Homo sapiens: one gene and its partners. The protein of the gene in region 4 interacts with the protein of the main gene of each other region in a pairwise test. Each region holds a gene or a part of one and is shown on either strand. Other genes may lie near its edges.

The links.
Region 1: the proteins of NR1H2 (region 4) and CRELD2 interact in a two-hybrid assay, tested with the Homo sapiens proteins (one large-scale study listed by IntAct).
Region 2: the proteins of NR1H2 (region 4) and TTC3 interact in a two-hybrid assay, tested with the Homo sapiens proteins (one large-scale study listed by BioGRID and IntAct).
Region 3: the proteins of NR1H2 (region 4) and MPP1 interact in a two-hybrid assay, tested with the Homo sapiens proteins (one large-scale study listed by BioGRID and IntAct).
Region 5: the proteins of NR1H2 (region 4) and ING3 interact in a two-hybrid assay, tested with the Homo sapiens proteins (one study listed by BioGRID).
Region 6: the proteins of NR1H2 (region 4) and SORBS2 interact in a two-hybrid assay, tested with the Homo sapiens proteins (one large-scale study listed by BioGRID and IntAct).
Region 7: the proteins of NR1H2 (region 4) and MED1 interact in a two-hybrid assay, tested with the Homo sapiens proteins (2 studies listed by BioGRID and IntAct, with this or other methods).

The regions. Positions count from the first base shown.
Region 1 is NC_000022.11:49,921,634-49,925,758, reverse strand, and holds part of CRELD2 (protein disulfide isomerase CRELD2 isoform b precursor), read right to left. Parts: coding exon 3,998-4,125; intron 3,889-3,997; coding exon of another isoform or gene 3,854-3,888; exon of another isoform or gene 3,765-3,853; intron 3,466-3,764; coding exon of another isoform or gene 3,316-3,465; intron 3,148-3,315; coding exon 3,052-3,147; intron 2,526-3,051; coding exon 2,442-2,525; exon of another isoform or gene 2,299-2,441; intron 1,400-2,298; coding exon 1,304-1,399; intron 343-1,303; coding exon 202-342; coding exon of another isoform or gene 89-201; exon of another isoform or gene 1-88. UniProt on the Homo sapiens protein: Protein disulfide isomerase. Might play a role in the unfolded protein response. May regulate transport of alpha4-beta2 neuronal acetylcholine receptor.
Region 2 is NC_000021.9:37,194,936-37,199,358, reverse strand, and holds part of TTC3 (E3 ubiquitin-protein ligase TTC3), read right to left. Parts: intron 3,685-4,423; coding exon 3,323-3,684; intron 1,790-3,322; coding exon 1,663-1,789; intron 1,478-1,662; coding exon 1,334-1,477; intron 1-1,333. UniProt on the Homo sapiens protein: E3 ubiquitin-protein ligase which catalyzes the formation of 'Lys-48'-polyubiquitin chains. Mediates the ubiquitination and subsequent degradation of phosphorylated Akt (AKT1, AKT2 and AKT3) in the nucleus.
Region 3 is NC_000023.11:154,794,866-154,799,288, forward strand, and holds part of MPP1 (55 kDa erythrocyte membrane protein), read right to left. Parts: intron 1-4,423. UniProt on the Homo sapiens protein: Essential regulator of neutrophil polarity. Regulates neutrophil polarization by regulating AKT1 phosphorylation through a mechanism that is independent of PIK3CG activity.
Region 4 is NC_000019.10:50,378,742-50,381,880, reverse strand, and holds part of NR1H2 (oxysterols receptor LXR-beta), read right to left. Parts: coding exon 3,085-3,139; intron 2,880-3,084; coding exon 2,700-2,879; intron 2,102-2,699; coding exon 2,002-2,101; intron 1-2,001. UniProt on the Homo sapiens protein: Nuclear receptor that exhibits a ligand-dependent transcriptional activation activity. Binds preferentially to double-stranded oligonucleotide direct repeats having the consensus half-site sequence 5'-AGGTCA-3' and 4-nt spacing (DR-4).
Region 5 is NC_000007.14:120,970,951-120,975,373, reverse strand, and holds part of ING3 (inhibitor of growth protein 3), read right to left. Parts: intron 4,174-4,423; exon of another isoform or gene 4,029-4,173; intron 2,170-4,028; coding exon 2,131-2,169; intron 647-2,130; coding exon 530-646; 3' UTR 1-529. UniProt on the Homo sapiens protein: Component of the NuA4 histone acetyltransferase (HAT) complex which is involved in transcriptional activation of select genes principally by acetylation of nucleosomal histones H4 and H2A.
Region 6 is NC_000004.12:185,623,010-185,627,432, forward strand, and holds part of SORBS2 (sorbin and SH3 domain-containing protein 2), read right to left. Parts: intron 4,011-4,423; coding exon 3,823-4,010; intron 1,486-3,822; coding exon 1-1,485. UniProt on the Homo sapiens protein: Adapter protein that plays a role in the assembling of signaling complexes, being a link between ABL kinases and actin cytoskeleton. Can form complex with ABL1 and CBL, thus promoting ubiquitination and degradation of ABL1.
Region 7 is NC_000017.11:39,419,904-39,424,326, forward strand, and holds part of MED1 (mediator of RNA polymerase II transcription subunit 1), read right to left. Parts: intron 3,919-4,423; coding exon 3,794-3,918; intron 3,543-3,793; coding exon 3,424-3,542; intron 16-3,423; coding exon 1-15. UniProt on the Homo sapiens protein: Component of the Mediator complex, a coactivator involved in the regulated transcription of nearly all RNA polymerase II-dependent genes.

The DNA of each region.
Region 1 (4,125 bases), on a different chromosome or scaffold from region 4:
TGGGGCTTCATCCTCAGGAAGCCAGTACCTCTCGCGCAAGCGTGCCCACACAGAGATGTCATGCACCTGTCTTCCGGGAATCCCCCTCTCACCATCTCAAGGCCACCATCTGTGTGGATTTCAGACCAAGCAGCCAGTCTACGTGCAAGCCCTGCGGCCCAGGGGAGGGCAGCCTGTGTGGAGGGCAGCCGTGCCACTCACCAGCCTCTGCCGGCGGCACACAGGCATCTTCCGTTTCTTCGAAGCCGTCAGGACACACACAGACGTAGCTCCCTGGAGTATTGTAGCAGTTTTCGTTTTTCCTCACACAGGTTTTTTCTGCTAGTGAGCACTCGTCCACATCTAAAATGAAAAGACTCCGTTTTAATAATTACTTTGCTCAGCAGACGCGCAGCGGATTATGAAATTCATTCATTCAGATTCATTCACATAAAGAAAGCACAACGATGACAAACGTCACGTTACAGAAAGGAGCAAAGATCAGGAAAGGCTTCGAGAGGGAAGAATTTCACGTCTCCAAGTTGGGCCCTCAACTGGTAGAAAATGCAGAGAAGAGACCTCCAGGTGGGGCCGGAAGGCCAGCATGCGCCCAGGAAGCCCACTTTCTTTTCCTTTTTTTTTTTTTTTTGAGGCGGAGTCTCGCTCTGTCGCCCAGGCTGGAGTGCGGTGGCGCGATCTCCTCTCACTGCAAGCTCCGCCTCCCGGGTTCACGCCATTCTGCTGCCTCAGCCCCCCGAGTAGCTGGGACTACAGGCGCCCGCCACCACGCCCGACTAATTTTTTGTATTTTTAGTAGAGATGGGGTTTCACCGTGTTAGCCAGGATGGTCTCGATCTCCTGACCTCGTGATCCCCCCGCCTCAGCCTCCCAAAGTGCTGGATTACAGGCATGAACCATGGCGCCTGCCCAGGAAACCCACTTTCTCCACCGGGTTCCATCCACGCCCAGGCTCACCCAGGCAGCCCACAACCATGGCAGGCCTGGACTTAAGCCTCGGGGCAATCGCCACCCAGGAGCTGGAGGGAGAGCAGAGGCGGTGGACCTGGGGAACGAGGCCACCGGCGAGAGGCTGGTGCAGCAGCGCCATCCACACCAGGGTCGGCCATGCAGAGCCCGTCCCCCACCCCCACTGCTTCTGTGTCTCACGTGGACCTCAGGGCGAGTGCACAGTGACCCTGGGGGAGCCACGTCTGCAGGACGGGTCTCAACTGCTTCCCATCCCTGGCAGTACCTGCTGGGGCCATTCACATCATGGTCACTTGGGAAGGGTCCACCAGCGTCCAGCACAGACCCCGTCACTGACCTGCACACTGTCCGTGCTCCCTCGCGTAGCCAGAGATACACTCTTTACAGTTTCCTGGGCCTTCCCCTGTGCAGCCCACACAGCTGGAGTCACACTCTGCAACAGGGAGCCAGCGTCAGACCCCGACATGCACAAGGCACCAGTGCCCGTCAGACCCCGACATGCACAAGGCACCGGTGCCGCCAGGATTTGGGTTTTCTCCTCATTCATCACCAAGTGACTTTATAACGATCTGTCTCTGTCTCCCGGCAAAAGCACAGACTCGCGTCCTGCTGTGCAGCAGGTGCTCCCGGAGAGCCATGGTGCAGACCACCTGGCTTGGAACTCTTTGGGAGAAACTGGGTGCTACAGAGATTCTAGAAACAAACCCACCTCCAGCTCGGTGACCATTGGTTTGCCAGCCTGCCAGGAGCTTCCTAAGAATAACCAGAGCCTCTCGCATGGCTTCCAGTATTAGTGGCTCACTGAGGGACCCACTGTCTGCACTCCCAACAGTGAAAACTGCCTGGGGCTGTCACACACACGGGGCAGAGGCGGCCTCCTCCCTGCTGCTGGGACTGGGGATCAGCACAACTTTTCTGGGGCACTATGGCTCTAAAAGACACATTCCCTTGACTGAGCGATTTGGAAATTAATCCACAGAAAATCATAAGGAATGTGAAAAGTTTACCTTCAAGTGTTCACAGTTTATAAGTTGAAAAACTGTTATGACGTAAACGTCCAGCAACAGACATTGTTGTAAAAGTATGAAATAATGGCTCCAAAATCATTAGCGTGACAGAGAAACCACAGGACGCAGAGACGTTCGCAACAAGCTGCTGAGTGGAAAACACCCGACAGGCGCTGCGGAAAGTCACGCAGGGCACGTTGCGGGGGCGCTGGGGGGGCACGAGCAGTGGAGGCACCAGCAGGGTGCGCTCTCCAGGGAGTTCCTGGGTTTTTAACTGTTTTCTTTTCATCTGACTTGAATTTTCTGATTTTCCTGCAGCAAATACCTATGACTTACTTTGCCACACTAAGTGTTCTCAGGGCAGGCAGGATGTATGGAAGTGACACTAAGAAGCCATAAATGAATGTTGACAAAGGCAGCAACGAAACCCGGCAGGCCCCGGAGTGCAGACCCGCCCGCCTGGCCCACCTTCGCACGTGTAGGAGCCGTTGGCGTTCTTACAGAACTGCGCAGCGCTGCAGGGAGGCGGCTCGGCCGCACACTCGTCCACATCTGGAACAGAGCGGCACAGCTGTGAGCGGCCCAGGACAGCCCGGCCAGGGAGCGGGGAAGGACCGATCATGGCCTGACACAGCCCGTGGCCAGGGCCGGCTGGGGAAGGGCAGGGAGGAGGGCAGCCCCTGAGGAGGAATCATCTCAAATGCCATCCTCGGAGGCCCCACGCGGCAGGGGAGGGGATGAGGCGATGGCCAGGCCCTGTCCTTAGACACTCAGTGCCAACCGGGGCAGGCGCCCCATGAGGATGGCGACACATTGTGTGAGAGTGAGACAGTGAGTGCCCCCACACCTCACGCCCCCACCTCACGCCCCCACACCTCACGCCCCACCTCATGCTCCCCCACACCTCACGCCCCCCACACCCCAAGCCCCACACCTCACGCCCCCACCTCACGCCCCCACACTTCACGCCCCCCTGCCTCCCGCCCCCATGCCTCACACCCCCCACGCCTTACGCCCCCATCTCACACCCCCCACGCCTCACGCAGGCGCCCTCCTCCACCCCCGGGCCGCTCCTCACCCACACAGGCGCCCTCGTCCAGCACCCAGCCCACTTCACACTCGCCGCAGTCTCTGTTGGTCAGGCCCGAGCACGTCTTGCAGGACTCGTCACAGGCTGGAAGGCAAAGGCGGGCCTGGGTACAAACCCCACTCTCAGGTACCAGCTTGGGGACAAGGCTCGTTTAAAAGTGAGGAATTTAAGAGGGAAAAGCAACACGGGATTTTCAGTGCCCATGAATTTAAAATTCTCAGCAAACCAGGACTCCAAGGAATTTTTAATAACCTGGAGAGAAGGCAGCTATCCATACTCTGGAGCTGTAGCCTGGCTGGGTGTGCGTGTTCCGGCCACGGATCCATGCGTGGCCCACGCCACGCCAACATCCAAGAGACAGACAGCAAGGCGGGTAAGAATCGGAGAGGCCGGTCCTGACTGCTGAGGGGCGTAAGAATCGGAGAGGCCGGTCCTGACTATCGATCCACGGGTCTGTCTGCCCAGAATAGCCTAGGGGCTGCCGGCCAACCACACACTCACGTCCGAGACACTCAGAGTTTTCCTACATATCAGTGACAACCAGGGAGAAAACGTCCTTTGGAAAGATGCCACTCATAACGGCCTGCAGGGATTTGACAGATGCTGCTCTCTGGGCCGGTGCGGGGCCCACACGGCACCTCCAGGACCTGTGCACTGCATGGCCCATCACAACTCAAGGTCGGGGTGGACCTTGAACTAGAGAGAAAGGTGAGTAGCTTCTCCCTTCTGAGGGCTGTTACGGGACAGGAAGTGCCCGACAACCTCTGCCTCTATCCTCTGATGTTTTCATTCATCCTTCTGGGCCCTCGAAGCTTCCTTGGACATCTGGGGTTAAAGATCAACAGGCCCCTGTTCCCATCTAGGCAGGCAGCTCCAGCAAGGGGCTCTTGTCATCCCGCCTCAACCCCGGGGCCAGCCCAGGCGTAGCCCGTACCTGTGCAGATGCTGTGGGTCTCGTTCCGGAGCGAGCTGAAGTAGCCGTCCATGCAGTCAGTGCACAGCGGGCCCTGGTACCCCATGTGGCACCGGCAGGACCCGTCGCCCTGTCTGCTCCCATCTCCG
Region 2 (4,423 bases), on a different chromosome or scaffold from region 4:
TGCCTCTTAACTCTGAGCGCCTTGAAGGCACAAAATGAGTCCCATCTGGGTCTTTAGCAGCTGGCAGAAAACCTAGCTCAAACTCATGCTCTAAAAACCCCTGCTGAGGGAGTGGGCGAATGCAGGCAGCCCTGGCAGTGGGATCAAGTTCAGGGAGTGGCACTGGAGGCATCACCCCAAGGCTGAGAAGACCTTGAACTGCTGTTCAGGGTTTTGCTGTCTCTCCCAAGGCATGACTCGGCCCAGGAGGAGATGGGGCAGATGCTGCAGAAGGAGGGTTCATGCCCCTCCACTGCTGCCCATGACTCGAGGGTCAGGGAAGAAGAGGAAGTGCCAGACCGGGGAAGAGCCATTGAAGGCCTCTCCAATGCCCAGTGCAAAGCTCGGAGCCAGGTTTAGTTTGAAAAAAATATACACTTAACTTGACCGTTTTCTATTTCCTAGAAAAGATGGGCACAGTATATTTCTAACTAAAAGAAAAAAAGGACAACCACAATAAAAAAAAAAATGGAAAACAACCAAAACATTCAGCCCCTCAGAGAACATACAAAGTGTGACTAGCGTATTCAGTTTTGACTAATTCACATATCCATGCATTCAAGAGTTTAGAAAAATATATACCAAAGTGGTAATACTGATTACAGGGCGGGTTTTTAAATGCCCTTTTTATTTGTATTTTCTATTGTATGTAATACTTTGTAATTTGAAAATTAATACTTTTAATTTTAACAAACTATGGTTATCAAATTAGGTCCCAGTTTGAACACATATTTTTCTTTCTCATACAATCTGGTGAAGTTTCAGTAAGTCAGCTTTTATATCTTCGTTACTACAAACATCCATCATGAAGCAAAAACAGAACCCTCTTCTCCAGGCAATCACGGTCTATCTTGGGGTGGGTGTGGCCACACGACACATTGACACATCTGTGTAATTCCAAAGCCATGGTTACACAGAAGAAAATTATTCAAAAATGATTTCCCCAACTGTTCAAAATACCACACTGGATGTACAAAGTTCATGTACTTGACCATCTGCAGCAAAACAAGGGCAAGAGAGAGAAGGCTCAGATCCCCCACGATGGTCAGAGCCCTTGTCACTCATGTGCAGGGGCTTCTCTCCATGCTGGGCCCAAACGTATCACAGCAGACACCATGACCTCGGCCATTCACTGATTGCTCTAACTGGACACATTCAAGTACATTGAAATTCAGTTTCTAATGTTGGGATCAAATAAATTAGGTCTAGAAATGAATGGGGCTAAATCATGGATTAAAAATTTTGTTTGCTTCTTGTTTTTCATTAAAAAACAAAACTATACAGTTATACATACAATCCTCACAGGGACATCTTCTGCTTTCTGCCCCTTGGTTTTGGGTGATGGTGCAACAACCACCGAGGGTGAGCCCTGGGAGGACCTGGTCACGGGGGTGGCAGAGCTGGGCTCATAAGTCCTCTTGTCCTTTCCTGGGTTTGGCTGCGAAAATAACAGGGGTGGCGGGGAGGGGACAAGAGGGAAGCAACCAGTTATCCAACAACTTGACCATCTTCTGTCTTTAGTACATTGCTCTCTAGGTTTTGGTTTGAAGCTTTTTTTTTTTTTTAACAATTCTCATATTTTATAAATAAATAAGGATAAACTGGAACATCTAGATAAAATACCTTTTTCTTTTTCTGTTCATCTAGAATGTGTTCTGTCACTCTTTGGACAATTTCATCAATACTCAATCCTGAGAGTGAGTTCTTGTTTTTGCTTCGCACTTTTTTAATAAAACCAGCAAGCTCAGTGCTGAAAGGGAGAGTGAGTGATGAATGACAACAGAAAGTTCTCTACTGCTAAGAAATATTACATGCCAATATTAATCCAACAGCCCAACCCAAAGAAACAAAGACAAATGCACATAAAATTAATCTGAAGACCACTGATAACAACAATAACTATCTAAAAAGCATAACTTTTTTTTTTTTTTTGAGACAGTGTCTCACTCTGTTGCCCAGGCTGGAGGGCAGTGGCGCGATCCCTGCTCACTGCAACCTCTGCCTCTCAGGTTCAAGCGAGTTTTGCCATTTTTTTTTAAGAAGAGATGGGGTTTCACCATGTTGGTCAGGCTGGTCCCGAACTCCTGACCTCAGGTGATCCACCTGCCTCGGCCTGGCGTGAGCCACCATGCCTGCTGGCTAATCATATTTTAACTGCCCCATTGTTTACAAATTTCAATTTTGAAGCCTGTAATTAACACTGTCTCAGAAACTGAAATAATAGGGCACATGCCAAAGGTCATTCCTGAGCATAGAGTCCTTTGATCCGAGCTGCACTTCAGAGACACCGCCTCTACCTCATCATCTTTCACAGCTGAGACAAGAGGCAACTCTGTCCCCCTCGTAACAACCTGAACAGCGGAAACCAGAGGTGGAGGCAGAAACGCTACTGAAGAGCCTGCCATCATCCCAACTCTATTTACAGCTCTTGCTCACTCAGGTAAGGGCAGCTTTTTCCCACATTCACAAGGACCCCTTGTTAACATGTCCACATGCCCCATTCACTATGGAATTCCATCCAGTCTTCAACCTCACACTCTAACAAATCAGAGGTCTTATATAACAAGGTTTAAGTTGCTGCTGCCTTCTTTGCTATATATAATTTTGTCCCCCCAAATGATGCAAAATTATTGTTTTGCGTTCATTTATTGATACTATAACACTAGTTTTAGACAGTGCTATTGGTCTCATCAAAATCTTAGCAAATTGTCATGGGTTCTGATGAATATTACCCAGTGCTCAATGTTTTCAATTTACATATGCACATTAAAAAATTTATTTGAGGCTGGGTGTGGCGTCTCATGCCTGTAACCCCAGCACTTTGGGAGGCCAAGGCGGGTGAATCACTTGAGGTCAGAAGTTCGAGACCAGCCTGGCCAACATGGTGAAACCCCACCTGTACTAAAAATACAAAAATTAGCCAGGCTTAGTCATGCATGCCTATAATCCCAGCTTCTCAGGAGGCTGAGGCAGGAGAATCGCTTGAACTCGGGAGGGAGAGGTTGCAGGGAGCCGAGACTGTGCCACAGCACTCCAGCCTAGGCAACAGAGTGAGACTCTGTCTCAAAAAAAAAAAAAAAAAGAAAGAAAAAACCCACCAATTTATTTGAAAATACTTATCTCTATATTTACAAAAAGAAAGAAATGTAGCAACTGTCTTTCTGAGCAAAACAATTATGCAACCCTTTTCATGTTAACACCTAACTAGCCATGATTTTATCTAATCAGGAAACCTCAGTTCGATAAAGTATTAAACACAGTCACAGACATTTTCTGTTCATACCTGTTGTAACATGGGAATACCACTGACAGGTGCTCAATAATACTATTGAACGGCTTTTTTGGAGACTGGCTTGAACGCGCAGCACGTCCTGGAGGAACAGGCTGCTTCCGATCAGCCACAGGGCTTCGTTCTGACAGAGCTGCCTGGCCAGCCCGTTTTGGCCCTGTCAGCTGAGTGGCTTCAGGCTGACCAGGGGGTGGCCCTGGCAACAGCGCAGAAGGAGCCTCCCCTGGGGAATCACCAGCAGAGAACACACTAGGATCCCTGTGAAGTGCTGCGTGGTTTCCAGTCACGTCGCTTGCAGAAGTCACAAGCCCTTGGCCATCGTCGCCTGAAGACTCAGGGAGTAACTCGGGATGAACCTGTGAGGAACACACCACACCATGGATCACTTAGGGCTTCCCTTGAAGGATGAAACGCCCAAGGACAAAGGCCGATGAATAAATACAGTAACGCAGCGCAGAGGCTCCGTGCACAGGAAACCTGAATACCATGAATTAAATATTTTCGTTTTAAAAGAATTCTTGACAATAACTTGTTAGTTATTAGAACAAGAGTAGGAGGGCTCAGACTTCTAAATAATTATCTCTATAAGTCACTATTTTCTCTGTAAGATGAGACCATTTTGCCTGCCTACTGGCCCTCCTTCAGCCTCTACCTGGTTACACTTTTCCCCTTCTGAGCTAAACCATGTAGCTGACAGATGGAACATCATGGCCACCACACTCCCCAGAGCTGTCTCCATCCCAGGGGGCCGCCTCCTCTTCCCTGCCAGCTCTCCTGGCAGCTCTCAGGCCTCCGTCCACGCCTGCAGTGCTGACACTCCTCCCCATGCAGCTGCCTGAGGCCAAATCTTTTTAAAAGTTTGCAGTCTAGAATATTTTCCTGAGATCCAAATCTGCAAATCCACTTGGGTGATTCCAAGGCAACTCAAAGTCAGTGTTTTGGAAACCAGCCTCAGGCAGCCTCCCCAGTCCTGCTCTTCCCCTAGTACTCCTGGACGGAAGCCCAAGACTCACCCTCAACTCCCACGTGGACACATGGGGCCTGGTCTCCTGAGCAGCATGGCACCTGTAAATGTACCCCCAATCACCTCTCACA
Region 3 (4,423 bases), on a different chromosome or scaffold from region 4:
CAAGGTGGGGAGATCGCTTAAGCCCAGGAGTTTGAGACCAGCCTGGGCAACATGGTGAAACTCCTGCCTCTGTAAGAAATTTTAAAATTAGCTGAGTGTGGTGGTGCAAGCCTGTGGTCCCAGCTACTCAGGAGGCTGAGGCAGGGGGATTGCTTGAGCTCAGGAGTTGGAGGCAGCAGTGAGCCATGATCACACCACTACACTCCAACCTGGGCAACAGAGGAAGACCCTGTCTCAGAAAAACAAACAAACAAACAAACAAACAAAAAACATGGTGAGGTTTGAAGTAGTATTCGCTATCAGGTGACCTCAAATGAGGGAAGTACTGAGAAAGAGAAACTGCCTTCTCTAGCAACTAGAACTTCAAAAAACTCACATGACACCAAGTCATATGGCATTGCTGTTATAACAAAATTGTCTAAGATAGGCTTATATTTAAAAAATTGACTTATGATACCCGGGATACACCATGTAGGTAGGAAAAGGAGGTTCTGAGGGTGATCTTGAAGATTTATTGTTAAGCAAAAAATAATAATAATGTGATGAAGGGTATACTAGCTTCATCATAAACAGTGAAAGAATGATTATATTCATATTTGCTTAAAAATCCATAAACTGGCCAGGTTCAGTGGCTCACACCTGTAATCCCAGCACTTTGGGAGGCTGAGGTGGGAGGATCACCTGAGGTCAGGGGTTCGAGACCAGCCTAGGCAACATAGTAAAACCTCGTCTCTACAAAAAATAAAAAAATTAGCCGGGCATGGTGGCGTGCACCTGTAATCCTAGCTACTCGGGAAGCTGAGGCAGAAGGATTGCTTGAGCCCGGGAGGTCAAGGCTGCAGTGAGTTGTGATTACACCACTGCACTCTAGCCTGGGTGACAGAGTGAGACCCTGTCTCAAAAAATAAAATAAATGAAAATACATAAACTATGTCTGGAAGGAGACATAAGAAACAGTGGTTGCTTCTAGGGAGAGGAACTGGGTGGCTATAAGATGGGGTGAGAAGGAAATTGTTTTCACTGTGTATCAAGTTATACCTTTTAAATTATGTATTATGTGCTTGTGTTACTTTAATAAAATAAATTAGTAAAAGAATTTTCCAAAGTGATTGGGACTCAGGTTCAAGTACTTGTGTGGATCTTGTCCTGCCTCAACCTTGACCCTGTTTAAGTAAGAGTAAACGGGAGGAGGGAAATAGAAACCCACAAAAAGTCATCAGGGTTGAAGGATTTCTTTCTCTTTGTTTTTTTTCCTTTTCTTTTCTTTTCTTTTTTCTTTTTTTGAGAAAGAGTCTCACTCTGTCACCCAGTCTAGAGTGCAGTGGCGTGATCTCGGCTCACTGCAACCTCCGCCTCCTGGGTTCAAGCGATTCTCCTGCCTCAGCCTCCCGAGTAGCTGGGATTACAGGCAAGCGCCACCACACCTGGCTAATTTTTGTATTTTTAGTAGAGACGGGGTTTTACCATGTTGGCCAGACTGGTCTGGAACTCCTGACCGCAAGTGATCCACCTGCCTCGGCCTCCCAAATCTGCTGGGATTACAGGCATGAGCCACCATGCCCGGCCAAGATTTCAATAGCTTTCCAGAAGACAGAAAGCAGATGGAGGAATGACCAAGGAGAGTTGAGACAGCTAGAGCCTAGAATGTGCATACAGGAGGCACCAGCCAAAGAGGCTGGGAAGATTAGTTTAGTTGAGCATCTTGCCATCCCAAACAAGATCAGGGATATGTAAGTGAGAAGTGGGATGTTGGATTGGCAACCAGTTATAATAATCTAAAAACCACTTATTGATTTTTACTTTTTAGAACTCACTTAGAAACAAATCATGAAACAAATAACAGACTGTAAATATCAGCACCATGACAATATTAAGGTACACATGTCCATGATAGGAAGTTGGCAGGTAAAAAGGGGAGAAAAATCGAAAGGAAGAGGCCTGTAATCTTGTTCTGTTACAAAGTGGGGAGTCAAGAAGTAGGATCTGCATTGGTTGGACAATAAATGAAGGAGTGAATGCATTACATAAAGTTCCAAGCCAGGTGTGGTGGCATGTGCCTGTAGTCCTAGCTACTCGTGAGGCTGAGGCAGGAGGATCATTTGAGCCCAGGAGGTCAAGGCTGCAGTGAGCTATGATAGCACCACTGTACTCTAGCCTGGGCAACAGAGCGAGACTCTATCTCTGGAAAAAGAAAAGAAAAAATCTCCAAAGCAGAAGTTGCAAACTGTTTTATTTCGACCACATGTCTCTGTTTTGTTTAGTAAAAATCAGGGGACTCCAACTTCTTTTTAAAGTATCAGAAGATCTGGCATCGCTCTCCAGGTGGCCCCAGCTCTCACATTCCTTACTGATGCCTCAGCCAGAAGCCAGTGTTGGCTACCGATCACCCTATATCTGGGGTGTTATTTTTCTCATACACGAGTGCTTTCACTCACTTGGTCCATGTAGGTTACACTAAAAGCACGTATACATGATGGAAAGGTACAGACCCATGAAAAGCTAAAATAATTTTGAAAAACAAGAGAGTAGGAAGACTCAGTCTGCACAGTTTCAAAACTTACTGTAGTATAGTCTCAGTAAAGACTATGTGGTATAGACATGCAGATCAAGGGAACAGGATAGGGAACCCAGAAACAGACCCACAGAGATATGCCCAGTTGATTTTTAACAAAGATGCAAAAGCAACTCAATGGTGCTGCAGCAATTGGAAACTCATCACCAAAAAGGGAAATGCTGACCTGAACCTTACCTTCTAAAATGGATATGGACTTACATGTAAAGTGCAAAACTAGAAAATATATTTGAAAAAAATAGAAGAAACTTGTCAGGATCTAGAGCTAGGCAAAAAGTTCCTATACATGACATCAAAAGCAGAATCCATTAAAGGAAAAATTGGTAAATTGGACCTCATCAAAATGAAAAACTCTTGTTCTGTGAAAGCCCACATGAAGATTGTGAAAATACAAGCTACAGACCGGGAGAAACATTTACAAACCACATATCCAATAAAAGACTGGTATATAGAATATAAAAAGAGAGTGCTCAATACTCAACAGTAAAAACGAACAATCTAATTAGAAAATGGGCAAAAAACATGAACAGATATTTCACCAAAGAGGATATATAAAGATGGCAAATGAGGATATAAAAAGATATTCAACATCATTAGCCATCAGGGAGAAATGCAAATTAAAACAACAATGATATATCACTACACATCTATCAGAATAGCTGAAATAAAAAAATAGTGACAATACTCATAACTGGTGAAGCTGAGGGAAAATTGGGCATCTCATACATTGCTGGTGGGAATGTAAGTGATATGGCTTCCATAGAAAATAGTTGAACACTTTATTAAAAAACCAAACACACAACTACCATAAAACCCAGGGATGACACTCCTGGATATTCACCTAGAGAAATGGAAATTTATGTTCACTCAAAAGCCTGTACATGAATGCTCATAACAGCTTTATTTATAACAGCCAAAATCTATAAAGAACCAAAATACAGGTGAACAGTTAAAGCGTGGTACATCCATACCATGGAACACTTCTCAGCAATTAAAACAAAAAACACTATTGATACTAAAACAACTTGGGATCCAGCTCAAAGGCATTATCCTGACTGAAAGAAAGCTAATCTATTTCAAAACATCACATACTATATGATTCCACTTATATAACATTCCTAAAATGACAAAATCATAGAGACATTGAACAGAGTAGTGACTGCAAGGAGTTGCGGGGATGGGGTAGGGAGGAAGACAAGTGTGACTATAAAGCGACAGCAGGAGAGAGGCCTTTGTGGGGATGGAACAGTTCTCTATCTTCATTGTGGTGGTGGCTAGAGGAATTTTATTTTATTTTATTTATTTTATTTTTTTGAGACAGACTTTCACTCTTATTGCCCAGGCTGGAGTGCAATGGCACGATCTCGGCTCACCACAACTTCCGCCTCCTGGATTCAAGCGATTCTCCTGCCTCAGCCTCCCGAGTAGCTGAGATTACAGGCATGCACCACCACGCCCGGCTAATTTTGTATTTTTTGTAGAGATGGGGTTTCTCCGCATTGGCCAGGCTGGTCTTGAACTCCCAACCTCAGGTGATCCGCCCGCCTCGGCCTCCCAAAGTGCTGGGATTACAGGTGTGAGCCACCATGCCTAGCTATGTCATATTCTTCTTATCCAGCTTTATTACAGTGATTGCTTTTTACATGTCAGCCTTTAAATTAAAGACTCAGCAAAGCTTACTAGAGGCAGAACCATTCCAGCTGGAAAAGTTCAAGAGTTGCCATCCCAAAGGTTGGTCTTTCAGATGTGCTTATCCAACAAGACGTTCCTCTTTACGATGACTAAGAGTCACTATCACGCTTACCCAGAAGTTGCAAATGATGACTAAGAAAAACGGAAACTTCCAACGTG
Region 4 (3,139 bases):
GGCTGGGAACACAGCAGTAATTACAGCGTTCTTGTCATTTCTGTCCACCTGTGCCCCGTGCCCATGAGTGCTGGCATGTAGTAGGTGTGCCACACATGCTGCCCAGTGAAGGAATGAATGAGGGTGCATGTTTCTTCAGTATTTTCTACTATCCTATCACCACCCTCCCTTCCCACCTGGGCGGTGGCTGCAGCTTCCCGAGTCCCTATTCTTGTCCCCTTCACAAAGGCAAAGGGAAGCTTTTAAAACCTAGGTCACATCGTGCTGGTCCCAGCGCTGGCTTCCACTGCTCAAGGTAAAGCCCAAACTCATTCCCAAAACTGACTTGTTCATTCAGTCATCAAATGTCACTGAGTACCTGCCACGTGCCAGGCTCCAGCACTTACATTTGAGAGCCTAGGGGACCGGTCATAGACAAACACATTAGGAAGAGGCCCAGCCTGTCAGAGGGCTGTGAGTTCAATGGAACCAGGCAGTGCAGAGAAGTGTGAAGGGCCCTGCTGAGCCATGGTTCTATTTTACACAAGGCGGGCAGGGAAGGCTGCGCTCTGGGTGACGCTGGAGCAGTGACCAATCCGAAGGAGATGAGGGATTGTGAGGGTGACCAACGTCTGCTGTTCCCATGACTTGGGACGGGGGCTACCCAGGCCATGAGACTTTCAGTGTTAAAACTGGGAAGGTCCTGGGCAAACTAGGACCAGTTGGTCCCCCTAGTTCTGGGCAGAGGAAACTCCAAGTACACAGGCCCTTGGCTGCAGCATGCTGGATGGGTGCCAGTAAGAGGCCAGAGTGGCTGGAACAGGGGGAGAGGGTGAGAGCTGAGGGCAGAGAGTGAGCGAGGCCAGGTCCTAAAGGGCTTTGTGGGCCACAGAGAGGACTCTAGCTCTTCTCCCAGTGAGACGGGAGCCGCGGAGGGTTCTGAGCGGAGGAGGGAAGTGGGCAGCCTTAAGTGCTGACAGGACCCTTCTGCCTGTGCTGTGAGCAGCCCCATCAGGCAGGGGTGGAGGCAGGCGGCCCCTCAAGGGGACCCTGGCAGTGTTCCAGGGTGGTGGCAGAGGAGCGGCTGGGAAGGGGTAGGGTGGGATTCCCGACCTCCTCTCCACCCCATCTCCTTGTGCTCCAGCTGCCTGGGCCTCCCTGTAGTTCCTCCAAACCACCAGCTCTCCCCAACCTCAGGGCCTCTGCAATCGCCAATCTCCTCTGCCAGAAACGCTTCCCTGCAGCCCTGCCCTGCTAAGCTCATACTAAAAGGGTTACTGGGACCGTCTCGGGTGGTGAAAGGGCCGGAGTAAGAGGAAGGGGAGAGGGTGGGGTTTGGACAGATGTCGGGAAATACAGAGAGGTCCCCCAGAGATTGTGGGACAATGAGGGAGCGAGGCCCTGGTGCATGCTCTGCAGCACTAGCAATGCTCCTCCCACCCTTTTCCTAGGCAGTGCCTCTCACTGCCCAGGCCTTCTTCCAGAAGCCCACCCACGCAGGTTAGCGCTCTCAGAGGGCAGGAAGCAGTGCTCCCCTAGACAGTAAAGAAGGCTGCCCGCTTCACAATGGACCGAGCTCCAGCCCGCCTCCCTTGGGTGAGACCACGTTTTGGCGGGGGCGGGGAATGCTTTTCCTAATGCCCACCAAGATGCCTGATGTGGTAACAGGGCTCCTCCCATCTCAACTTCCACTGCAACCCAATGTACAGAGTCGGCACTCAATACATGCTTTTTTTAAAAAATAGAGACACGGTCTTCTCTGTCACCAGGCTGGAATGCCGTCGCACAATCACGGCTCACTATAGCCTCAAGCAATCTGCCCTCCTCAGCCTCGAGTGGCTGGGACTATTGGCGTGCACCACCACACGTGGCACATGCACTCTTACCTCACTCTCACCTTGGCTCAACCCTCACCCCAACTTTGGAGATAAAGAAACAGAGACTCCAACAGGGATGAGTTGGCCCCAGGTCTTCCAGCCAGCAGGGGCGCCAAGCCTCCCCGAAGCCTCCCCTGGGCCCTACCTGCACGGTGGAAGTCGTCCTTGCTGTAGGTGAAGTCCTTCAAGAAGGTGATACACTCTGTCTCGTGGTTGTAGCGCCTGGCTGTCTCTAGCAGCATGATCTAAGGGCGGCAGCGGGAGGGGGAGCTTGAGCCCTGTGACCCTTCAGCTGCTAGTCCCTCCCCTCCTGGCCCAAATGGGGGTCTAATCTCACCAGGATTATCCCTTGTCCCCTTCCCCCCTGTTCTCTCAGCCACACCAGCGTGCAGCCATCACGTGAGACAGCCCGAGCTCTTTCTCCACTTCAGGCTTCCGCACATGCTGCATCCCCATCTCCTTAGGATACTCTTTCCCCAGGTGAGCACAAGGTTTGGGGCACGGGGTTTGATCTGCTTTGTTCTTTGCCCCATATGCCAACACTTGGAATAGAGCCTGGCATACAGCACGTGCTCAATACTTATATGTTATCCCTACTTTGATTCAAATGCTAACTCCTCTGAAAAGCCTTTTTGGCAACTTTTCTCTGCAATAGCGCCTCTAGCCTGATCCTCAATTTTCTCAGCCTCAGACCCTTTTTCCTTTCTCTCCTTGGCTCATAGAAGACTCTATTCGCCGTGGAATGTCATCCTACAACGGCAAGCACTGGTCTTCCTTAACTCTGCTCCCAGCATCTGTCCTGGAGCTATCTCTGGGGTTCCTTGTGGGCAGATGGACCATTACCTCGATAGTGGATGCCTTCAGGAGGGCGATCTGGTCCTCCCGGCCCAGCTGCAGGAAACCAGGCACTTGCTTAGCGAAGTCCACGATCTCCTGGACTGAGATGATGGCCAGCTCCGTGAAGTGGGCAAAGCGTTGCTGGCGGGCATCTCGGGACTGGGGGTCTGCGCCCAGGGGCCAGGGCTGGGACACAGGAGACCAGGGTCACTCCCAGGTCTTTGTGAGCCTAAGTCTGGGTGGCCACCTTGAGGCCAAGCCTGCACCCTGGGGGATCCTCTTCCCAAAGCCCCTGCCCTCTGGAGCCTCATTCTCCCACACCCTGGGTGATGGCCCAGCTGGCTCTACCCCATTGGGACCGTCACACTCAAGGTTGTGGAGGGGGCAGTACCGTGACTTTGGGCTGGTCGGAGAAGGAGCGTTTGTTGCACTGCAGTTGGGCCGCC
Region 5 (4,423 bases), on a different chromosome or scaffold from region 4:
TGAATTAGTTTCACAAAGAAACAAAGCTTATTATAAAGGCATTTTAAAAACCATTATCTTAAATTCTTTTTAGAAGCACTGACTTTTTTTTTTTTTTGCAACCATTTATATACAGTGTTACATAACAGCTCTGGAGTACAGTACATGCAGCAGAATATACCTGTTGAATATAAAATACTTTCCTTAAAATCTTCATCATTGGAATTCCTTGAAGTCTAAATCATAGAATGCCCATTACTTTGAGAAAATGGTTGAGGAGTACAAATGTCTGCATATGTTGGCCACTGAAATAATCCAAGGCTAACTGGAATAATATTCATAGCACACCAGGAGTGCATAAATAATTTACTTACATTATTAAAATACAACCCATAAAATTCAAGTTCAAGATCTTATAGGATTGTCTATGTAAATCCTTTAAGTGGTTGCCTGGAAATGCATTGTTTCTTCTTTCTCTTCTCTTCTTTTTAAAGTCCTATATAAAATCTTCAGCTGAAGTTTATTTCTTCATCAAACAAAAGGACCACCTTTATTTGTGTCTGCTGCCTCTTCTCTTCATTGCAGCAGTGCACTGTGGACAGTACCATTTGCCTTTTGGTGCCTCTGTCAATCCAACGCAGCCATAATGGAACCATTCTATAGGGCACTAGAAAGCAAAATTGCAAAAAACAAGTTTTCAGTACTTCTGAAGACAAGAGAGTATATTAAAATATGCTCAGGAGACTGAATAATCCATTTAATTTAACAATAATTAGATGTGTGACATCAGAATTTTTAGATCTAGATTATTTAGACATCATTTAGACTAAATGATAAGCTTCAGGAATGAGGAAATGAAGGCACAGAAAAATTATGCATCTTCAAGAATCCTGAGGTCCATGTAATCTAGTCCCCTCATCCTAATGAATGAAAATTCACTAGTTTTCAGCTTTCAAGGGCAAAAAGAAGTGGGATGAATCTTCTATGTAGAAGGTAAATATAACTTAAGATTTTATTTAATAGTCAGCCTTATTTGCTGTCTCATAAAGTAGAATAAGCTGATTGTAATTAAAGACATTAATTTATGTCTTATGCCCTGCATTTCCTACGTGGGTGTTTCTATTCCTTGAAATGTAGAGAAAAATTATTCCTCTTTGAAACATATTAAGCAGAAAACTCTTTCATGAAAGTCTTAGCACTCAGAAGAGCACAACTGGGAATAAGAAGAATCAGAGAAGCATGATGCTGGTACTCATAGAAATCTCATTCATCATTTTCACTAACTGCCCCAGAAGAGTTTACAGTGATGTTCTTGAAATGGTTGGGCAATATTGTTTTTGCAACAACCACAAACAGCCTACAAGGGATTCTAGACAGGGAAACAGAAGGAGGCTCTGTCCCAATCTACGTGAGCATGTTGCTGTAACCCTATCAGGTCTAGGAAAAGTACACATTTTAATGCACCTAGCCAGCTCCCTCAATCTTCAGATTGTTTTACAAATTTAAAACTCTTGTTAATCTTAGGATCCTGTCACTACTAAATAAGGAGGGAGTCAAAATTACTAGACAACAATATTCTCAGTATTGAATAAAAAACGTATCTCTAACTAAAATTAAGTCTCCTAAAAACCAAGAATTCCTTCCTTTCAAATTTCCTTTACTTTTTAGATCAGGGGTGGCTCTTATCAGCTGACACCTGCAGAGTACAGGAAAAAATATTATACTCATGAGAGGAAGATAATCTCACATTAGATCCTCAATTATCCCACCCTTCACTTTAGCACGGTGCAGCCTGAAAGAATGAATTGTTTTAAAATTCCATTTCTTCAATGTGATAAATGAACTGGATTCTAGTAAACACAGTATTTTTTAGTAAAGGGAAAGGAGGGTATTTATAATTTTCATACAACATAACACTTCTGAGACAATCTGCACATAAAACCATAAAATTAGCTTTAAAAATTAAAATAGGGAACACATTAAGGGACACTACCCTATTTTGAAGAGGAATATTCTAGCATTAGCATAATATAACTAATATACCTGCAAACCTGTTTTCTTAGACCAAACCATACAGCAAATAAGACAAATATTCAAGTAATAACAACCTGTGATTTTTTTCATTCCTAAATAGAAAAATGTAATACTTACATCTTGGTTATCACATCCCACCATCTCACCATAAGATACCTAGTTAAAAAAAATTAAATGTCTTTATTATGACTATGTAACAAACACCTAGATACCAATTAACTGTTTATGTATGATACTGCTGGAAAATAAAGGGAAATACACTGAATATACAATTACATTGAGAATCAAGGTATAATAATTTTTTCCTGAAATACTCTTTTGGGCAGGGTGGGGCAAGGGTGGGAAGAAATGCACAGGAATTATCTGCCCTTCAGAAGTCTGGAAGAACTTGACATATAAATCACCCGGATGAAGGAGTCATCTTTCTGGGTAGTTCTTATTGTAAAAATTTTAAGTTCCTTTCTTGATTATTTACTTACTGAAAGTTTTTACTTCTTGGGTCACATTAGGTCATTTATATTTTTGCAATTAATAGTCTCCTTCCTTGAAACTTCTAAACTTATCTATTTTATGTCCTTTCTCATTTTTCTTTTGCTCTTCATCACCAGCACTTTAGGGCATAACTTGCTAATTCTTGAGTTCACTGAAGTTCTCAGTGGATTGAATAATTTTTCAGACAGGATTAACTAGATGGCATATCTTCTGATTCTCTGCATGAGTGAAAATATATTTACATGGTCCTATGCAGAGAAATAACTTCTCTGAATATCAAGTTTTTGGGGGCTCTTAATTTTTCCCTGAAAGCTCTACAGACATATTCCATCACCTTCTAGTTTTTTAGTGTTACAGAGGAAAACTCTAGGTTCAGTCTGATTTTGTTCTTTTGCAAGTAATCTACTTTTGTTGTCAGGATACAGGATATGCTTTTCTATCATTTGTACTGAAAAATGTTTATCGGGTGATAGTGGAACAGCTAACAAATTGTTAAAATTTTTAAAAATCAGACTGGCAACTCATACTGTTAGACACAATAATCTGCTGATAGACTAAGTCTTAAATGTGAAGAAACTGAAGCATGCAAAGAACTAGACAAAACCATATAAAAACTAGGAGAAAATATTATACAAGACAATTTTTTGTAGAAAGAAGAGCCAAAGAGAAAGCCCTTCTAAGTATATAATCCATGGCTTGCTTCATAAAAAAAAATTAACAGTCATAACTACATAAAATTAAAATTTTAGAATTATTTTTAAAAAACTAAATCAAGCAAATATTTAGAGTACATAACAAAAACAATAGAAAAATCAGCCGACACCATTAGGAGTCGATTCATAATGTAAAAAACAAAAATGGTCAAAAAATGTCCAACTTCAATAATACTAGTGTATTTAAAACAATCATAATATAAAACTACCAAATTGGTACTTAGTTTTTAAAAGAAAATAATATCCAGTGTTGGACAGGGTTTAGTAAACCGGTATGTTTATTAATTTTTGGTAATAAATTTCTAGAAAATATATTTTGGTGTCTGTCAAATATTTACAGCCTAATTTTATTTCTAAAAGATTATCCAAGAAATTAGATGTATAAAATGGATTACATTTAAAAAATGCCTATCGTAATATTATCCCTAATTTCAAACAAATTAAAACCACTAATATAATCTATAGCTAGGTATTGGTTAAGAAAACTACACTGGATGGCATAAGAGATAACTATGTGAAAATTAAAAATATGATCTTAAAGAAAAATCATGTTCGGTATACCTGATTTAGAGAAAAAAGCCAGTAACAAGAAAGTATACACTGTGGTTCCTACTGACAAACTTATACACACATGCATGTGCAAATCTGCATAGACACGTGTTATGAAATGCAAGCTTATGTCTCAAAATCATATGTTGAAGCCCTAACCCCCAACGTGACTATAATTGGAAACAGGGCCTGTGAGGAGGTGGTAAAGGTTAAATGAGGTCATAGAGTGGGGTCCTACTCTGACAAGGCTGGTGCCCTTATAAGAAAAGACACCAGAGCACACTCTTTCTCCCTCTATCATGTGAGGACCCGGTGAGAAGGCAGCAGTCTCCATCTAGGAAGGGAGCCCTCCTCCAGAACTGAGTCAGTGGACACCTTGATCTTGGACTTCCCAGCCTTCATACCTGTGAGAAAATTATTTTCTGTTGTTTAAGCTACCCAGTCTGTTGTATTTTATTAAGGCAGCCAATGTGCACATGAGGTATATGGTAGTGGTATACCAAAAATGTTTAGTTACAGGTTGTATCTGAGGGCTAGGATTATGGGTAACATTTTTCTTTATACTCAGTATTTACAGCAAATGTCACTTTTGTAAGAAGGGGGAGAAAAGTATACAAATAAAGCAAAGGTATTTTAAGTGAGTTTAAAAAAGTGCT
Region 6 (4,423 bases), on a different chromosome or scaffold from region 4:
TCTGGTAGGGTGGACAATGAATAGCACCATCGGGAGGCAGTGGGTGGAGAGGCTGGTGCAGGGGGCTCCTCCTCAGCGCTCTCAGGGATGAGTTCCTCTCGGGAACATCTGGCAGCAGCTCACTGATGAGGCGGTGCAGGATGCTGTTGTCCGGCAAGCTCCCCCTTTTCTTTTCAGCTTTAATTTGGTCACAGATGTCTTTAAGGGCAGAGTCCAGAGCCTCAAACACAGATGCTTTACATTTTGCCTTTTCAGTCTGTTTCTTAGGAGCCGAATTTTTTTTCCTCCGGAAAGGCACAGGACTGACTAGAAAAGCAAGTTTAGAAAGGCCAGGGTCCATTTCTTGCCTTCTGGGCTCCTCGGTGTTTTCGTGTCTGGCTCTTTCGTGTTTTAACATTGTGGTAAATCGAGTGTAGGAGGCCGGGCACCTGCCTTTGCAGGAGCTGATGAGGTGGCGGTGGTGGTGGTGGTGGTGATGGTGGTGGTGGTGGCTGGATCCGTAAAAGCTTTCGGAGGATGTGAAGGAAAAGTGATCAAAGTCACTTTCACTGCAGAAGGATGACCCCTCTAGGTGAATGTAGTCACTGTGGTCGGACACAACCCCGTCCTGGTCGCTGTCGGAAAACTCCACGTGTGCTCGGGGCTGCTCATCGCTGGTGACTTCAATGTGAATGGGCACCAGGGCGTTAGACTGGCAGCCTCGCCGGCCCCGAGCGGGGGGGCCGCTTTGATTTTCTTCCTCCAGCAAATACTCAATGGAAAACCGCCTCTTGGGACATAGGCCATTTTGCGGTGGTTCTAGGGTTACGGGAGACAGCATGTCATCCCCTAAATTTGGCATGGATTTGGACTTCTGGATCAGCTTTTCGAATTCGGAGATGCGTGTGGGCACCATGTCCCGGGGCACCTCCTCCGTGGAGCACTGGCTCCAGGCGCGCAGCAGGTCCTTGTGCTGCTGCTCGCTCTCGTACTGCAGAATCCTGGACTTCACGGAGCAGATCACCTCGGAGTTCATCAGGTCCTTGCGGTTGATGCGGTGCATTTTCTTGTACATCTTCAGGAACCCCGGGGCGTTGCGGGCTGACCTGTGTCTGATCCTTGATCTGCCGTTACTGCGAACCTCCGGGACGTAGGGGGACCCCCACGCCATGGGGCAGCTCTCCTTGGAGTCCTCCTCACATAACAGGGAGCCCATGCTTTCCGACTTGACTTTCGGGTCCGGGAAGCTATCGCAGTCGTCGTTTAGGAGATCGTCACAGCTCCGGGATTTGATTTTGGGAGAGACGGTTTCTTCCGTGCTGCTCCAGATTTCTGCGTTTTGCCGGGCCATTTGCCAGCCGTTCTTGAAACTAATGGCTCTTGGTGAGTCCCGAGGGACATCCAAGTGCTGTCTGTAAGTGCTACAGTAATCTAACTCACTGGAGGGGTTGCCGTTGAGCCCTGAGTAACTGCAAAGGGATGGACATATTTTGCTATCATCCCCACCTTTTAATCCAGAGCAGCGTGGTAGAAGAGAGACATTTGGAGAAGTTAAAAGGTTCACAAAGAGAGGAGAGCATGTCAGTAAAGCATCAGACAGCATAGCAAGGAGAAAGCAGTTAGTGTGTTTTAATCTAGGTGCTGATTGTTCACACATGGAGCTTCAACTCTAGAGAAGAAGGTCTAATTCTAAAGCGAGCTAATACTTTTTCAGTGAATGTAGCTTTGCAGAGAGAGTTGACAAAACTGTGTATAAGAAGCAACCGACGTAAGCAAATACACCTACTCCTACTGCATAATTCATACACCTTTCTGACAATATTGTTTGCCAAAACACAATAGTGCTGCTTCAGCTGATAGCATGATCTGGTAGTGAAGGTTTAACAATTAGTGTCAAAAGTGTTATACCCTTACGCAATTTAATAGGGCCGGAATTTGAGCCTCATTTGATTCGTAATGATACATAGGTGAAGAAGGGTTTATACATTTACATCGAATTAATACTCTCATGACTATATCAAATAATTTTTTGTGGGTTTTAGATTTTAAAAGCTATAAGGCAAAGTATTCTCCAAAATTGCAAAATCAAAATGCTGTGAACTATTGCTGCTAACATTTTTCTAGAAAAAAATAGCTAAAGCTCTTTAAACAAACGAATTTACCTCTTAAATTGCTCTACCTTTAACCTTTTATTAGGTACAAAATTCTCATAGGAAAACTGAATATAATGCAAAACTTTCATCAGAGGTGCATATACCATGCTTTTTTTCTCGGAAGAGTTCTTTGAAAAATCATTTGCAATTTGATAATAGAGATCTACATTTGGCCTCAATTTTGAATAGCTATGGAAATGTTCTTTTGCTTTGCTGAGTCAACTAATAAATGAGGAGCCAAATTATATCTAATAGGACATTTTCTTCCTAGAAATAAAATCTAATGGAGGAAAATATCTCTATTCAATACTTATACCTTACAATGTTCTCTAAATTCTTTAAAAGTAGATAAGCACATTAGGTAGATCTGTACTGTCTGGGAAAGGAAGTTGATTTAACATTCCCTGTGATGAAACAAATATCTACATTTATCAGAACCCTTTTAACTTTTGGCTAGTATCCAAGAATAATAGGTCAATGGCATTTCATGACCTACTTGTTACCTTAAGATATTCATTTGAATAAGTGAGTTGAATCTGATAAGGCATCTCTGCTCCTCAGAGGAAAGATGTGATGGATGGGGCTCACACGCCCTGAACCATCAGCTGATATCACAGCTTTACAAGGCCTTAAAAGGGCTAGGCATCCACCTACTCAGAGTCCAATCATCACGACCAGAATACCTTTTGCACACAAATCAGCTACCACTTTTAACTACCATGTGGCAATGGTTTTAGTGACTATAGTTGATAGGTGTAGCTGAATTGGTCTGGTTTTATAGAAACTTACATTAGAGCTCAATTTCTTTACACATTTCAAAATCTCTTTCTCTTCTCTTTCAATCCCAAGATATTAGAGGAGATTGTGGGGTCCCACATTTGGTAGAGCCCTAGCTCCCTGTAGGGGCTGGTTCAATCCTCACTCTCCATCTCAGAAATATTCCTGTCCTCAAGGAATACCACTAAATGGTCTTCCAGAAACCAGAAGGAGTGACTTCTTTCAACAGTGAGCTCCCTACACTTGCAGAGAGGAGACGGGCCATCCAGAAAAAAAGGCTTGGTGATTCCTCAGTGATATCATTATGGTTTGGGACCAATTAGTCCTGACTGTGAGCTGCTGTGAATTGACCACTGTGTTACATGGCAGGAGGTGGATGCTCCACTGTTCATGTGAAGGTGGCCCAAAATATACAGCAAATGGCTAAAGAAATTAATAGGTCGGATTTTTTTAAAATCTAGAATTGAATAATTTTTTAAAACCCTCCAAACCAATGTATATTTTAGCCAACAATTTGCTCTGTTGCTGCTTGTAATTTTTATCCTATAAATTTGACTAATTTGCTAGTTGTAGAAACATTAGAAAATTTTGACTATATGTCAATGTTTACAAAATACATCTTTTAGTAGCCTGATGATACATTATTTGATACTTTCAATTTGTTTAGAAAGGGATCTATTTGGGGGAAAAAAGCATTAGCAGATGCTAGTCAGAGTTCTTTAAGCAACCTAAGTGGCTCGCCAGCTTGAGTCAGTCTGGGTGGGAAGAAGGCTATTGTTCTAAAACTATATTTTATTCCAGACACTGTAGGTGAGAGCTGGCACATGCCACTATCACTGGGCCAGCTTTCACACAGTGCTCTAGGCTAAAACGTAAACTAGTAAATTGTTGTGTTTTCATTTACTATGCTCACCTTTTGCTCTTGATGGGGAAGAAGGAGAAGAGCTAGTGAAAGACTTTGTAAGAGTGGTGCTTGATCCTGGGAGGTCCACTCGGCCTGGGCTAGTCCTGCTCGCACTTTGATCTCCCAAGCCCCGTGGTGGACCCACTGCAGGCTCGCTCTTCCTCCGCTTCCTGAAGTCACTGGCCATGCTTGCAGAACTGAAAGAAGGAATCAGATCTGTTTGATTGGCACTGGAGGAGGTTCGGGTGTGCACCAGAAAAACCGGTGGAACGTGCTAGTGACAATGGCGTAACTCCTAAACCTCTATCCCCAAAACTGCATTGCTAGGAACTCATCCCTTGATGTTCAACATGATTTCTCTAGAAGGATCTTTTAAAAAATGAATAGACCTTATTATTTATTTTGAGATGGCTTCTGGCTCTGTCACCCAGGCTGGAAGCGCAGTGGTGCAATCACAGCTCACTGCAGCCCCAAACTCCTGGGCTCAAGGGATACTCCCGCCTCAACCTCCTGAGTAGCTGGGACCACAGGTGGGTGCCACCTCACCTGGCTAATTTTTTTAAATTTGTTATTTATGTAGAGACAGAGTCTCACTATGTTGCCCAGGCTG
Region 7 (4,423 bases), on a different chromosome or scaffold from region 4:
CTGACCAGGAAGAGCCTGGGCAAAAAGAACAGTTAACGAGTGCTATTTAGTTACCTATTGTATTCCAACCACAAAGTATCCTGAAAAAACCTACTACTCAAAAAAGTGCAGAAAAGTCTCCACAGTGAATGTTTTCATCAGCTGATATTATAAATGTCAATCAATTACTAATTAGGCTGAAAAGATGTCTTTTTAGTAAATGCACTATGCTAGTGATTTCCTAACCTAGCTAACATAAAAACTACCTCAGAAATCTGTATTAAAGAGGTTCCTAAACCATAAATGCAAAATCTCTTTTTTTTTTTTTTTTTTTTGAGACAGAGTCTCCCTCTGTTGCCCAGGCTGGAGTGCAGTGGTGCGATCTCGGCTCACTGCAAGCTCCGCCTCCCGAGTTCATGCCATTCTCCTGCCTCAGCCTCCTGAGTAGCTGCGACTATAGGCACCCGCCACCACGCCCGGCTAATTTTTTTTGTATTTTTAGTAGAGACAGTGTTTCACTGTGTTAGCCAGGATTGTCTCCATCTCCTGACTTCGTGATCCACCCACCTGGGCCTCCCAAAGTGCTGGGATTACAGGAATAAACAACCACGCCCGGCTGCAAATTCTCTATTTTTAATAAAACACCTATATAATAATAATGCAGCCAGAATTTGGTAACCACTACTTTAGTCTATTGTAAAAGATTCAGATAAATACAAGTCCAGATGAGGTTTTGGAACGTTCCCTTATTATTATTATTATTACTTTTGAGACAGGGTTTCACTCCCATTACCCAGGATGGAGTACAATTGTGCAATCTTGGCTCATTGCAATCTCTACCTCCCAGGATGAAGCCCCTCAGCTTCCCGAGCAGCTGAGACTACAGGCATGAACAACCACATGTGCCTATTTTTTTTTTTTTTTTTTTTTGAGACAGAGTCTTGCTCTTGTAGCTCAGGCTGGAGTGCAGTGGCACGATCTCTGCTCGCTGCAAGCTCCACCTCCCGGGTTCACGCCATTCTCCTGCCTCAGCCTCCCAAGTAGCTGGGACTACAGGCGCCCGCCACCACACCCAGCTAATTTTTTGTGTTTTTTAGTAGTGACGGGGTTTCACCATGTTGGCCAGGATGGTCTCGATCTCCTGACCTCATGATCTGCCCGCCTCGGCCTCCCAAAGTGCTAGGATTACAGGCGTGAGCCACCGCTCCCGGCCACATCAGCCTAATTTTTGTATTTTTTTTTTGTAGAGACAGGATTTTGCCGGAGGATGAGGCAGAAGAATCGCTTGAACCTGGGAGGCAGAGGTTGCAGTCAGCCGAGATCGTGCCACTGCACTCCAGCCTGGGCACCAAGAGCAAAAAAAAAAAAAAGAAAAAAGAAAAGAAAAGGACAGGCAAGGTGGCTTGCGCCTGTAATCCCAGCACTTTGGGAGGCGGAGTAGGGTGGATCTCAAGGTCAAGAGATAAAGACCAATCTGGCCAACATGGTAAAACCCCGTCTCTACTAAAAATACAAAAATTATCTGGGCATGGTGGTGCACACCTACAGTCCCAGCTACTCAGGAGGCTGAGGCAGGAGAATCACTTGAACCTGGGAGGCGGAGGTTGCAGTGAGCCGAGATCGCGCCACTGCACTCCAGCCTGGCAACAGAGCTAGCTAGACTCCATCTCAAAAAATAAAAAAATAAAAAAGAGAGGATTTTGCCACGTTGCCCAGGCTGGTATTGAACTCCTGAGCTCAAGTGATCTGCCTTGCCTTGGCCTCCCAAAGTGCTGGGATTACAGGTGTGAGTCACTGTGCCCAGCCTCTTAATTACTGCTTCCAGCATTTTCCTCTCTGTAAGTACTTTCAGGATCTTTCCAGATTCTAAGCTCATGGCACTTGAAAGAATTAAACAGTAAGAATTTATAACACCTAATTATGATATTCTAAAAGTTCAAAATACCATTAAGAGTCTGTCACCCCGCCAGGCAAGGTGGCTCACGCCTGCAATCCTAGCACTTTGGGAGGCCGAGGCGGGCGGATCACGAGGTCAGGAGATCGAGACCATCCTGGCTAACATGGTGAAATCCCGTCTCTACTAAAAATACAAAAAATTAGCCAGGCATGGTGGCAGGCGCCTGTAGTCCCAGCTACTCAGGAGGCTGAGGCAGGAGAATGGCATGAACCCGGGAGGTGGAGTTTGCAGTGAGCTGAGATCTCACCACTGCACTCCAGCCTGGGCGACACAGCAAGACTCCGTCTCAAAAAAAAAAAAAAAAGTCTATCACCCAAAATTTCTTTTTCTTTTTTATTTTTTTGAGACGGAGTCTTGCTCTGTTGCCAGGCTGAAGCGCAGTGGTGCGATCTTGGCTCACTGCAACCTTCGTCTCCCGGGTTCAAGCAATTCTCCTGCCTCAGCCTCCCGAGTAGCTGGGACTACAGGTGCATGACACCACACCCAGCTAATTTTTGTATTTTTTTAGTAGAGATGGGGTTTCACCCTGTTGGCCAGGATGCTCTCGATCTCTTGACCTCGTGATCCACCTGCCTCGGCCTCCCAAAGTGCTGCTGGGATTAGACATGTGAAACACCACGCCCAGCCTCGTTTTTTTTTTTTTTTTTTTTTTTTGAGACGGAATTTCGCTCTTGTTGCCCAGGCTGGAGTGCAGTGGCGCAATCTTGGCTCACTGCAACCTCTGCCTCCCGGGTTAAGTGATTCTCCTGCCTCAGCCTCCCAAGTAGCTGGGATTACAGGCATGTTCCACCACACCCAGCTAATTTTTATATTTTTAGTAGAGACGGGGTTTCACCATGTTATCCAGGCTGGTCTCAAACTCCTGATCTCTAGTGACCACCCGCCTTGGCCTCCCAAATTCCTGGGATTACAGGTGTGAGCCACTGCACCTGGCCAATCACCCAAAATTTCAACAAAGAACTGTACATTGTTGTTTCCTAATGGAAGCTCATGCCCTTTTACTTCAATACATTTCCGAGATTTCTTTTTTTTTTTTTTTTTTTTGAGACAGAGTCTCGCTCTGTCACCCAGGCTGGAGCACAATGGCACAATCTTGTCTCACTGCAACCTCTGCCTCCCAGATTCAAGCCATTCTCCTCCCTCAGCCTCCCGAGTAGCTGGGATTACAGGCACCCGCCACCACACACGGCTAATTTTTTGTATTTTTAGTAGAGACAGGGTTTCCCTATGTTGGCCAGGCTGGTCTCGAACTCCTGACCTCACGATCCGCCTGCCTTGGCCTCCTAAAGTGCGGGGATTACAGGTGTGAGCCACCGCGCCCAGCCCATTTCTGAGATTTCTGTAATTTCCTGCCTTACTAAAGAAATAGGACATGATCCAGCAGTCTTGAAGAAACTTATCTGACCTCAATAATGCTATAAAGGAAGATTATGATCTTGGGTCCAAACATAACCTACAACATTCTAGCTCCCTAGGGCTTTACTTACAGCATAAAATCTCATGTTGTGATTCAAAGGTATGGGGTCAGGGTCCTTTGATAGCTCAAACTGAGTGATCAGTTCATACAGGGGTGCATAAGTTGGTTGAGTTTCAAACAATGGAATTCCTGGAAAAACAAGAATCAATATAATGATCATGTTAAGATGAAAACACTGACAGCTCAGTTTCCCCTTGATATCTACATTCATTCACCCAAAAGAGTACTTACTAAGCATTTACTAGTACAAAGCACTATAACATCTTTACCAGTAATACTTCAATGAGGCATGTAAGACTGAAAGACGTCATGATAACCTGACTTTGAAGTTTCTTTTTCACATTTATAACAAGTACTAGATCCTGATGCTCAAAACTCACCTGTGCAGTTCTGCAGTTTCTGAACAAATGCTCTAGATACTGGGATTGGCTGGGGAAATTTCAAGAAGAAACAGGCAGGAAGATCAACACTGTTGGCACTGGTGATTGAGGAGAAGGAAGGGGTCCTTCAAAAAAAAGAGGGTGGAAGGGTTGGATTCTGACTTGATATAAAAATGAAAAACCCAAACACCTTTTTTTTTTTTGAGACAGATTTTCCCTCTTAATGCCCAGGCTAGAGTGCAATGGCGTGATCTTGGCTCACTGCAACCTCTGCCTCCCGGGTTCAAGGGATTCTCCTATCTCAGCTTCGTGAGTAGCTGGGACTACAGGTGCCCGCCACCACGCCCGGCTAATTTTTGTATTGTTAGTAGAGATGGGGTTTCACCATGTTGGCCAGGCTGGTCTTGAACTCCTGACCTCAGGTGTTCCACTTGCCTCAGCCTCCCAAAGTGCTGGGATTACAGGCGTGAGCCACCATGCCTGGCCACAAACACCTATTCTTAAACATGTATGTATCACACAGACACATAAGTACAAACTCTCAAAAGCTCACTCTGTGAAACTTCCTACCCCCAATTCCCAGACATGCTATTGGTTAACACTGTAGAATTTAATCAAACATTTATCCTG